Linked DNA regions of Homo sapiens: region 2 is linked to region 1. The links come from fine-mapping of genetic effects on gene expression. A gene starts in region 1. The other region holds a variant in brackets. All regions are shown on one strand. Distances are from middle to middle.

The links. PIP is the estimated chance that this variant, and not a neighbour inherited with it, causes the effect.
Region 2: its variant is the best candidate, but not a certain one, in a credible set for the expression of SERF2 in whole blood (INTERVAL, PIP 0.60).

What each region holds. Positions count from the first base shown.
Region 1 is chr15:43,789,084-43,794,456 of GRCh38, reverse strand. SERF2 (small EDRK-rich factor 2) reads right to left here and starts at 2,137. Exons shown (of 3, transcript NM_001018108.4): 1 at 2,074-2,137; 2 at 1,374-1,482; 3 at 1-747. The coding sequence starts at 2,080. The coding sequence ends at 684. SERINC4 (serine incorporator 4) reads left to right here. Exons shown (of 12, transcript NM_001258031.2): 12 at 1-295. SERF2-C15ORF63 (SERF2-C15orf63 readthrough) reads right to left here and starts at 2,481. Exons shown (of 6, transcript NR_037673.1): 1 at 2,074-2,481; 2 at 1,374-1,482. MIR1282 (microRNA 1282) reads left to right here and starts at 698; the gene lies at 698-798. RefSeq lists enhancers at 136-989, 1,325-1,654, 1,443-2,642, 5,043-5,132, 4,935-5,373 and a silencer at 2,375-2,454.
Region 2 is chr15:43,749,756-43,755,128 of GRCh38, reverse strand. It overlaps PDIA3 (protein disulfide isomerase family A member 3), which reads right to left. Exons shown (of 13, transcript NM_005313.5): 2 at 1,227-1,305. Among named protein-coding and RNA genes, the nearest start is that of PDIA3, 6.0 kb to the right of the region's middle. The variant G/C (reference allele first, on the strand shown) is at 3,141.

The DNA of each region.
Region 1 (5,373 bases):
AAAGTGAACGCTTGACAGCAGCTGACCACGGGAAGTCGGTGAGCAGCAGGATTTTTTGGCCAACTTTCAAGCAGACGAACAAACTGAGGAAGAATGAGGAAAAGAGGCATAAACACAGATCTTGCAGCATTCACTCTTAGGCCAACTCCATCCTAGAGATGGTGTTCAAGGGTGGGGAACAAAAATCACAGAAAAGAAGTCTCTATGGTTCTTAGAGGATTCCTCTACTGCATATCCGGAGTACTTGTTTGGTTGTCATTGTATAATAAAGGCTTCTTCTGTGATGTTTCACTTATTAAGTCTACATACCCACAATCTGAATCTAAAGAGTTCTCCCTTTTTTGGTGGGAAAGGGCAGTCATTCTTCCAACCCCATCCCCCCAAGTCCCCAGTCAAACCAGGCGCTCAAGGAATTACAAAGCTACTTTTAATACTTTGGGGTGAGCCCCACAGGAATAAAAAACACTGGGAAGGGGTAACCCCCTCACCCCCGGGAGTGGCCCAGGGGGAGAGAGGCTACCTGAGGGGAAGGAAGCACAAAAGGGACCCGCTGCAGACTCAGGGCAAAGGGAATGCCATCGGTGCTGGGACCTGTGAGCACTACAGGAGGAAACGCGAGCGTGGTGGGACTGGCTCCAGGCACACAGGCGAAGGGCAAGAGGGTTGGACACGAAGCCACAAAGCTACTTGGGTTCCTCCTTCTTCTCGTTTGCCTTTTTCTGCTTCTGCTGCATGATCTCCGAGTCCCTGGGGGTAGAGATGATGGGGCACTGGGAGGTACCAGAGGGCAAAAAGGACAAGATGCAGGGGGATGAAGGGCACAAAGGATAAGATGGAAGTGGATGGGACTAAGTTCAGCGTTTGGCTGCTGTACTCCCACCCTAGGAGAACAAGAGGAAGAGAGCTGAGGCTCAAAAGGCGACCAGTCTCCATCTGGCTGTTGCCCAAGGGGTCAGAAGTCTGGTGACACAGGCCCAAGGGTCTCTATTCTGTATTGAGGACCACACCCAGCAACACCAGTGAGGAGGTTGGGAGAAGGGAGGAGAACCGAACAGCAAGGAGGGCCAAAAGTACTGGGCTGCCGTAACCACAACTGTATTTGAAATGTGAAGCTCCCTGCCCTTGCCCTTAAGGTCAGACCCAGGGACGCTCAGAAATCAGACTGAGGGCAGGCGCCCGCCCCCGTCCTTTCCTGTAAGGCTGTGAGCTAACAATTTGGAGGGTGGGGAGGAAATAAAACCCTAGAGGAAGCAATGCACTCTGCTCCTCACGACTAGTCCACATTCAAGCCCTGAGGTAGCTCTCTTTCCTTCTATAACCCTTGGTCTAACCCAGGTCTCCACCGTCCCTTTCCCTCCCCTCCCTGGGGCTACCTCTGCTTGCGGGCGGCAGCAGAAAGCCCGTCATCTCGGCGCTTTCCCTTAACCGAGTCGCTCTGCTTTTTCATATTCTTCTGGCGGGCGAGCTCACGCTGGTTACCGCCTAAGGAAAGAAAATTAAAGGTGAGACGCGGGGGCCGCTCTGCCCACACACCGGCGACCCTTCTACCCCAGCGCGGCCAGCAGCAGGATCCAACACCACTTCAATCTCCGGGCCCCGACAACGGCCCATCGAGGCCCAGGCTGCTTGGGGTAGGGGGGAGTGGCGAATCTGCCACGGGCCAGGTCAAAATACGGACTAGAGAAGGGAGGTCCCAAGGGGCCAGCTGGAGGCGTGTTTTGGGGCGGCGTGGGGCCCAAACAGCTGGCAAGGTGTGTGTGGACGGTTTGGGTCTCCGTGGGGGATGGGCTGGCTTGTGGAGTGGGGGCTCTGGGCCTATCACAGGGGCGCTGGCCTTCTCCTTACACCGCGGAAGATCCGGGAGGGCCTATGCCTAACCCGGGAGGGTGGTCCCGTGAAGTAGCCGTGGGCAAAGGGCTCGATTTCCGGGCACCGAGTGTGAGGGTGGCCACAGAGCGCGCCCAGAGAAACGCCTTGCTAGGGAAGCTACGGAAGGTCAAAGCCGGCGCCTCGCCGGTGGTGTTTAGGGTGAACGGAAAGAAAAGGGCAAGGAGAAGGGGGCTCGGTGCTCACGGGTCATGGCGACGGCAGCGGCTCCAACCTGCCTCCGTTACGTCCCCTCGTTCTGTCGGACGTTGCAGGTCCCGCCCCTTCTGGCAACGTAGCACAGTCGTTCCTTTCCTCCCCGCCCCTTCGCGCCCGGGAGCCGGCTCCCATTGGACAAGAAAAAGCACGTGGATCCACGGGTCGTGCTTGAGCCGGGGTGGGTAAGTGGCGGAGGGTCGCAGGCGGAGCGCTCAGCGTGGGGCGGGGCTTCCCGAGTGAGACGTAGGGACGGGCCTGGAGAAACTAGGCCGGGTCACGTGGGCAGGTTGGGGGTGGAGGGGTGCGGCTGGCGATGTGGCGCTCCCGCGGGCTCGAGCACGTGACCGTGCAGAGTGACCTCATGCGGGGACAGTTTGGGGTACTGACAAAGTCGCCCTGAAAGAACGCCCGTAGACAAGAGGGCGGGGTTTCAGCCAGTTCTGTGTTACGAGTACTCTACTACTAAACTTGTGCTTACTTAGGACCACCTCTCAGCCACTTATTTGGACACGAGTTGTTCACAGCTCGCTTAAAATCAAGTACAAACACAACTTCAGAAACCCGCTTCTACTCCCATTGTCCCCTTCCACGCCCCTTCACTGTAGAAAATCGCAGCAACATCTGGTATTTCCTAAAACTCTACCCTGTTCGTTTTCCCCCAGAAACTTTAAATGTGAACATGCAGCTTGGAAGTATTGGAGGACTCCAAAAGTCACAGACTATGGAGTTGGATCAGTGGCTGAGATTAGATAATTCACATATTCGCTTTTCCCCTCTGGAGCTTTTCTTACTGTACCATCGCCACCAGCCACCCGGTTTTGTATTAAGACCCTGGAGGGCCGGGCGTGGTGGCTCACGCCTGTAATCCCAGCACTTTGGGAGGCTGAGGTGGGCAGATCAGAAGGTCAGGAGTTCGAGACCAGCAGCCTGACCAACAATGGTGAAAACCCTAAAAATACAAAAAATTAGCCGGGCGTGGTGGCGCGCCTGTAATTCCAGCTACTTGGGAGGCTGAGGCAGGAGAATCGCTTGAACCCGGGAGGCGGAAGTTGCAGTGAGCCGAGATCGCGCCATTGCACTCCAGCCCAGGCGACAGTGCGAGATCCCGTCTAAAAAAAAAGTTAATAAGAATTAGCCGGGCGTGGTGGCGGGCGCCTGTAGTCCCAGCTACTCAGGAGGCTGAGGCAGGAGAATGGCGTGAACCCGGTAGATGGAGCTTGCAGTGAGCCGAGATCGCACCACTGCACTCTAGCCTGGGCGACAGAGCGAGACTGCATCTCAAAAAAAAAAGAGTTAATAAGAAAGGCTGGGCAAGGTGGCTCACGCCTGTAATCCCAGCACTTTGGGAGGCAGAGGCGGGTGGATCACGAGGTCAGGACATCGAGACCATCCTGGCTAACACGGTAAAACCCCGTCTCTACTAAAAATACAAAAAAAAAAAATAGCTGGGTGTGGTGGCAGGCGCCTGTAGTCCCAGCTACTTGAGAGGCTGAGGCCGGAGAACCGTGTGAACCCAGGAGCAGCAGCTTGCAGTGAGCCGAGATCACGCCACTGCCCTCCAGCCTGGGCGACAGAGCCAGACTCCATCTCAAAATAAATAATAAATAAACAGTTAATAAGAGACACCCAAGCTGGAGTGCATTGGCGTGATCTCGGCTCACTGCAACCTCTGCTTCCTGTGTTCAAGCTATTCTCCCACCTCAGCCTCCCAAGTAGCTGCGATTACAGGCACCCGCCATCATGCCCGGCTAATTTTTGTATTTTTGTTTTTCTGGAGATGGGATTCCATCATGTTGGCTAGGCTGGTCTGGAACTCCTGACCTCAGGTGATCCGCCCTCCTTGGCCCCCCAAAGTGCAAGGATTACAGGTGTGAGCCACGGTGCACAGCCACAATTGGGTATATCTTGATGAGCACAGCATATTCCTATAATCATGAAAGATACAGAGAAAAAAGCTCTCTCACACTTTCTCTCTCTCCCTCTCCCTGTCTGCCTCTCTCTCTCTAATATCCATATATGTATTTATATGTCTGTCTATATATATGAATTTTTGGTTTTTTTTGAGACAGTCTTACTCTGTTACCCAGGCTGGAGGCTGGAGTGGTATGCTCTCGGCTCACTGCAACCTCCACCATCTTGTATTCAAGCGATTCTCCTTTCTCAGCCTCCCGAGTAGCTGGGATTACAGGCACCCGCCACCACGCCCGGATAATTTTTTTTTTTTTTTTTTGAGATGGAGTCTTGCTCTGTCGCCCAGGTTGGAGTACAGTGGTGCGATTTCGGCTCACTGCAACCTCCACCTCCCAGGTTCAAGCAATTCTCCTGCCTCAGCTTCCCGAGTAGCTGGGCCTACAGGTGCGTGCCACCACGCTCGGCTAATTTTTGTATTTTTTAGTAGAGACAGGCTTTAACCATGTTGGTCAGGCTGGTCTCAAACTCCTGACCTCAGGTGATCCACCTGCCTCGGCCTCCCACAGTGCTGGGATAACAGGTGCAAGCCACTGTGCTCGGACTGTATTTTTTTTTAGTAGAGACAGGGTTTCACCATGTTGGCCAGGCTGGTCTCGAACTCCTGACCTCAAGTGATCTACCCACCCCAGCCTCCCAAAGTGCTGGGATTACAGGCTTGAACCACCATGCCCAGCCTATATATGAAAACTGATCATGATAATAGCTTTAAAGGAAAATAACAGATTCCACGCAAGGATGATATTCAAAATGTTTCGCAGTGCACACAGCTTAAGCACTGACCCATAAAAACAGATGTCAGTGTAATTTGAATGAAGACTCTGTGAACAATTCCACCTGGTATGAAGTAACTAAATAGTACTGCTGGTGCTATGAAGGGAGTACACCTGTGGACTCTGTAGACTTTAATTTTGATTAGGGAGGTGAAGTAAGTGATATTTGAGCTAAAGCAAAAAGATGAGAAATTAGCCAAGCCCAGGAGGGAAGGGCAGGGAGAACATTTCAGGAGGGAACAGCACGTGTGAAGGCCCTAAGGCCCTCCTCCCTCAGGTCATCCCATCAAGAGCCACAGGATTATTGTGTAGGTAAAGGGCAAGTCACTAATGCCTAATGAGCAGGGTGGTGTGAAACTAGGTCAGATAGGGAGGTAGGGTTGTGACAAGATCCAAGTTACTACTGCTAATATAACTACTAGCTAACATCAGGTGGGTTTTTATTTGGTACATTTAGTGTACTTTTCTTTTTTTTTTTTTTTTAGACAGAGTCTCACTCTGTCGCCCAGGCTGGAGTGCAGTGGCGCCATCTCGGCTCACTGCAAGC
Region 2 (5,373 bases), 39 kb after region 1:
GTCTCGAACTCTTGACCTCAGGTGATCCGCCCTCCTCAGCCTGTCAAAGTGCTGGGATTACAGGCGTGAGCCACCGTGCCCAGCCTCAATGATTATTTTAACCTTTATAGCTGTACTTCTGCTTTCCATCTTTAATTCTTATTTACCATATACTTTACTACTTTTTTTTTTTTTGAGACAGGGTTTCGCTCTATTGCCCAGGCTAGAGTGCAATGGTTCAATCACAGCTCAGTGCAGCCTCAACCTCTCTGGCTTAAGCAATCCTTCCACCTCAGCCTCTGAGTAGCTGGGACTATGGAAGCCTGCCTGTATCTTTAGTAGAGATGGAATTTTGCCATGTTGCCCAGGCTGGTCTCAAGTGATCTACTTGCCTTGGCCTCCCAAAGTACTGGGATTACACTTTTTTTTTTTTTTTTAAGAGACAGGGTCTTACTCTGTCACCTAGGCTGGAGTCTAGTAGTGTGCAGTGTCTAGTCACTGCAGCCTCAAGCAATCCTCCTGCTTCAGCCTTTTGAGAAGCTGGGACTACAGGTGTGAGCCAACACACCCAGCTTTTTAAATTTTTTGTAGAGATGAGGTCTTGCTTTGTTGCCCAGGCAACAAACTCCTGGCCTCAAGTAATCATCCCAAAGTGCTGGAATTACAGCTGTGAGGCACCATACCTGGTCTATTTTACTTCTTATGCCAGTAATTTCCTTACTCTCACTACTTTTAATTTTTTTTTTTTTTTTTTTTTGAGACGGAGTCTTGCTCTGTCACCAGGCTGGAGTGCAGTGGCCCGATCTCGGCTCACTGAAACCTTCATCTCCTGGGTTCAAGCAATTCTCCTGCCTCAGTCTCCTGAGTAGCTGGGACTACAGGCACGTGCCATCACACCCAGCTAATTTTTGTATTTTTAGTTGAGACAGGGTTTCACCGTGTTGGCTAGGATGGTCTCAATCTCTTGACTTCGTGATCCACCCACCTCGGCCTCCCAAAGTGCTGGGATTACAGGCATGAGCCATTGCGCCCAGCCACTACTTTTAATCTTTTGAAACTACAAGTCAGTTGTGTATTTGCCCAGAAACTAGTATTCGCTCTTCTTAGCAGAATAAGAGTAGAGAAAATGAATGTTAATCTTACAAACTATTTATTACTGTTATTTTTTTCCATGTAACAAAGCTGAGACAACAAACTACTTTTTAAAATACTTCACGTCCTTTAGTGAAGAATCCACCTGTACTTACCTTTGCTAATGGGACTATTCCTTTTAATCTGGTAGCTGCAGCTTCATACTCAGGTGCAAGTCTCTTGCAGTGTCCACACCTATATACGTATTAAAAAAGCCAAATTCTCAGTTTAGTCCTATGAATTTGTTAATGTTGTCTCACTAGGAAGAATCTCAAACTATAATACTACCTTTGAGCTAGTAGACACTTCCAAAAAGCAAAATCATCACATGAACAACATTCATTATTGTTAAAGTAAACCAGAACTCTCAAGAGGTAAAGGTCCTACCCCTAGACTGAGGTTGACTCCATAGTACTGGCTCAGCACAGGGCAGCTCTATTTTCTCAATACAAAGTATAACTAAGTTGTGAAAGCTGTAGTCAAAGGTGTACGCCACATTATTAAAGAGGGTTGAATGGGTTAATGCCCTTTTGACCAATTAATGAGGCTGAATGAAGGACAAAATAGAAATAATCCCATTTCTGATAGAATTCCCCAGAGGAAAATACAATTCCCTGGGAAACCAGCATTGTGGTTGTTAAAAATAGTGACTGAAGCTCACACCTGTAATCCCAGCACTTTGGGAGGCCAAGGCGAGTAGATCACTCGAGGTCAGGAGTTCAAGACCAGCCTGGCCAAAATAGTGAAACCCCGTCTCTACTGACAATACAAAAATTAGCCAGGCGTGGTGGTGGGCACCTGTAATCAAAGCTAATCGGGAGGCTGAGGCAGGAGAATTGCTTGAACCTGGGAGGTGGAGGTTGCAGTGAGCTGACATCGCGCCACTGCACTCCAGCCTGGGTGACAGAATAAGACTCTGTCTCGGGGTGGGGGTGGGGACACAAAATTGTGACTGAAACCCTGTAATGTCTCAAGTATGATATTAAGTCTTTTAGATGGCAGGCCTGATTTTTACAGCTACATAGTTCACCTAGCCATGAGAAGTGATAACAAAACATGTAAACTAGAATACCTTTCCCAGAGGGCCACCAGAAGCACCGGCTCCTCTGCCCAGAAAATCCTAATCAGTGTATATACAGCTAGCACCAGCTGTACATCACCTTTTCAAAAGCCAAAGGGTTGCAGAGGGATCACGTTGAGAAGGTGAGTTCTGTAACCTTCCCGTAGACAGCAAAAATAGAAATATAATAGAGAAGAAACTTGAGCAGATATATTTCAATAGTCAATGGTGTAATTTTATCAAGTGATGGATAACTTGGAAATATTGTACACCTAAAACTTGTTTAAAATAAAGGATTATAACAGCTTATTCTCCAAGGCCTTCAGGCGGCCTATTAAAGTATAAAAGAACCAAATGATAAATACCAAATTCAAGATAAAGGAGTGTATAAGATGGTAAAGGGGCACATAGGGGACTTCAAATGTACTGGCTATGTTTTTCAGACTGAGTGCAAACAAATGCTATTCCTTATGCTGTATTTCAGATTCATTGTTTTTTCCTGATATTAAGATGTATTTTGCAGTCATGTTATAGTTTCAGTGGTAGTATTTCTTTCTCAGTGAGACACAAGATAGTTCCTCTCACAATCAGTGGTATCTTATGTGTGTGAAATAGGGTCTTATTCATTATATCCTCTGTATTCCTTTAATACTGCATAGTAAATGGATTTTAAAGGGAGTAACAATTGGATCTGGGTCTTTAAGGATTTAACGCTTCAGAGAGAAGAGGGCAGGGTATTTAAGATGAGGGAGATAGTAGAGCAAACGTAAAAGAATACCAGTAAGCATGATGCATTCAGAGAACTGTAAAGGGCTTTTGTGAGATAATAAATGTGCGTGCACGTGTACTAAGACTACGTCAATCAGCAATGTCAAAGACTGACAGAAAGGGAGAAAATAGAGACAAGAGTAAAGCCATCTAGAAGATAATATATTTCACATGGCAGACAATAAAAGCTTGGACCGGAATG[G/C]CAGCAATGAGAATAAAGAAGAGACAGATGAGAGATTTCTGTTGAATATATAGTAGTTGTCAAGGCTGAGGCAACAGATTTATGAGTTAATTGTTTCAACTATCTTCAAACATTTTAAGAGAAAAAAATCACATACAATAGTTACTAGGTCAAGCCAGTAGGTGTCAACTCTAGATGCTTATCAAAAATACCCACAGAGCATTAAAACAACAAAAGTATGCATGGCTTACTGAATGAGAATCTCCAGAAATCTGGGGAGCAACCAGGTGTGTGTGTAAGCTGCAAGGCTGGGACTAAAATCCACTGCCTTAAACTTTGGCAATATCCATAAGGTCATCAAATCCACAAAAAGAGTTTCAATGAGGCTGGAGGAGACTCTCCTCTTCAAATCCAGCAGGAATGGAACTCAGGTGGTATTTAAGGGAAATCAGGGTTGGTTAACATACATCCTTCAAGATTAACCACTACTTCTTTCACCCACCCCTAGAAAATATTAAAACACAATTAATTCTATCTATCCTCAGGGATGGCACCTGGCAGTTGATAATGAATTCCAACATATATTCACCCATAATCATCACTTCATCATGTGTGCCATGCGTCAAGTACTTTTTGATAAGTGCCTTATCAAGTGTCTTTGATAAGAAAATTGGTATAGTCCTTTCCTTATAGGAACACCAGTCTGGCAGGGGTGACACAGTATTATTAGATGCCAATAGAGAGGCAGGATCAACCAGTTAGTTGTCCAGGGAAGGAAAAAAAAAATATGAGCTAAATGTTGATGTTGAAAAGATCAACTCGGGGTGGGGATTACAAGTAAAGAAATTAGCACATATATTATTTTTTTTTTTTTTTTCGAGACGGAGTCTTGCTCTGTCACTCAGGCTGGAGTCCAGTGGCATGATCTCAGCTCACTGCAACCTGCACCTCCCAGGTTCAAGCAATTCTCCTGCCTCAGCCTCCTGAGTAGCTGGGATTACAGGCTCCTGCCACCGTGCCTAGCCAATTTTTGTATTTTTAGTAGAGACAAGGTTTCCCCATGTTGGCCAGGCTAGTCTCAAACTCCTGAACCTCGTGATCTGCCCACCTTGGCCTCCCAAAGTGCTGGGATTACAGGCGTGAGCCTTTGCACCCAGCCATTATTTATTACTACTGTCTTAGAGGGTAGCATACACATCTATAGCATAAATAGATGTTGAGGACTTTTTTTTTTTTTGAGAAGGAGTCTCGCTGTCGCCCAGGCTGGAGTGCAGTGGCGTGATCTTGGCTTACTGCAAGCTCCACCTCCTGGGTTCACACCATTCTCCTGCCTCAGCCTCCCGAGTAGCTGGGACTACAGGCACCTGCTACCACGCCCAGCTAACTTTTTGTATTTTTAGTAGAGACGGGGTTTCACCATGTTGGCCAGGATGGTCTCGATCTCTTGACCTCGTGATCCACCCGCCTTGACCTCCCAAAGTGCTGGGATTACAGGCGTGAGCCACCGTGCCCGGCCAAGGACTTAATATTACATATTAACACTAATCAATAAATTTTCGGACATTTCCAAACATTTAAATAGTGTTATTTCCCCAGAGAAATTCAGATACTCTTATCCTTAAAAATATATAGCAGATTAACTCCATAATGGAAATATTAGTCTACAAAATCAACTGCAAAGAAAGCTTTCACTAAGCCAGGCACGGTGGCTCACGCCTGAAATCCCAGCACTTTGGGAGTCCAACGCAGGTGATTCAGGTGAAGTCAGGAGTTCAAGACCAGCCTGGCCAACATGGTGAAACCTGGTCTCTACTTAAAAAAAAAAAAAAAAAAAAAAATTAGCCAGACAGGGGAGGCGGAGGTTGCAGAGCCGGGATCGCGCCACTGCACTCCAGCCTTGGCAACAGAGAGAGACTGTCTCAAAAAAAAAAAAAGCAAGCAAAGCAAGCTTTCACCTTTCACTTTCACTTGAAACATGAAAGCGGAAAAAGAATTTGCTTAAATAGGTCTATTTTGTGACGAGAATAAGGTTAAAAAAAAAAAAGCCCATTTTACTTTCTTTTTTGAGATGGTCTCACACTGTCATTTAGGCTGGAGTGCAATGGTGCAATCTCAGCTTCCTGCAACCTCCACCTCCCAGGCTCAAGTGATCTTCTCCTCCCACCTCAGCCTCCTGAGTAGCTAGGACTACAGGCGTGTGCTACCATGCCCGGTTAATTTTTGTCATTTTTTAGTAGAGATGGGGTCTGGCCAT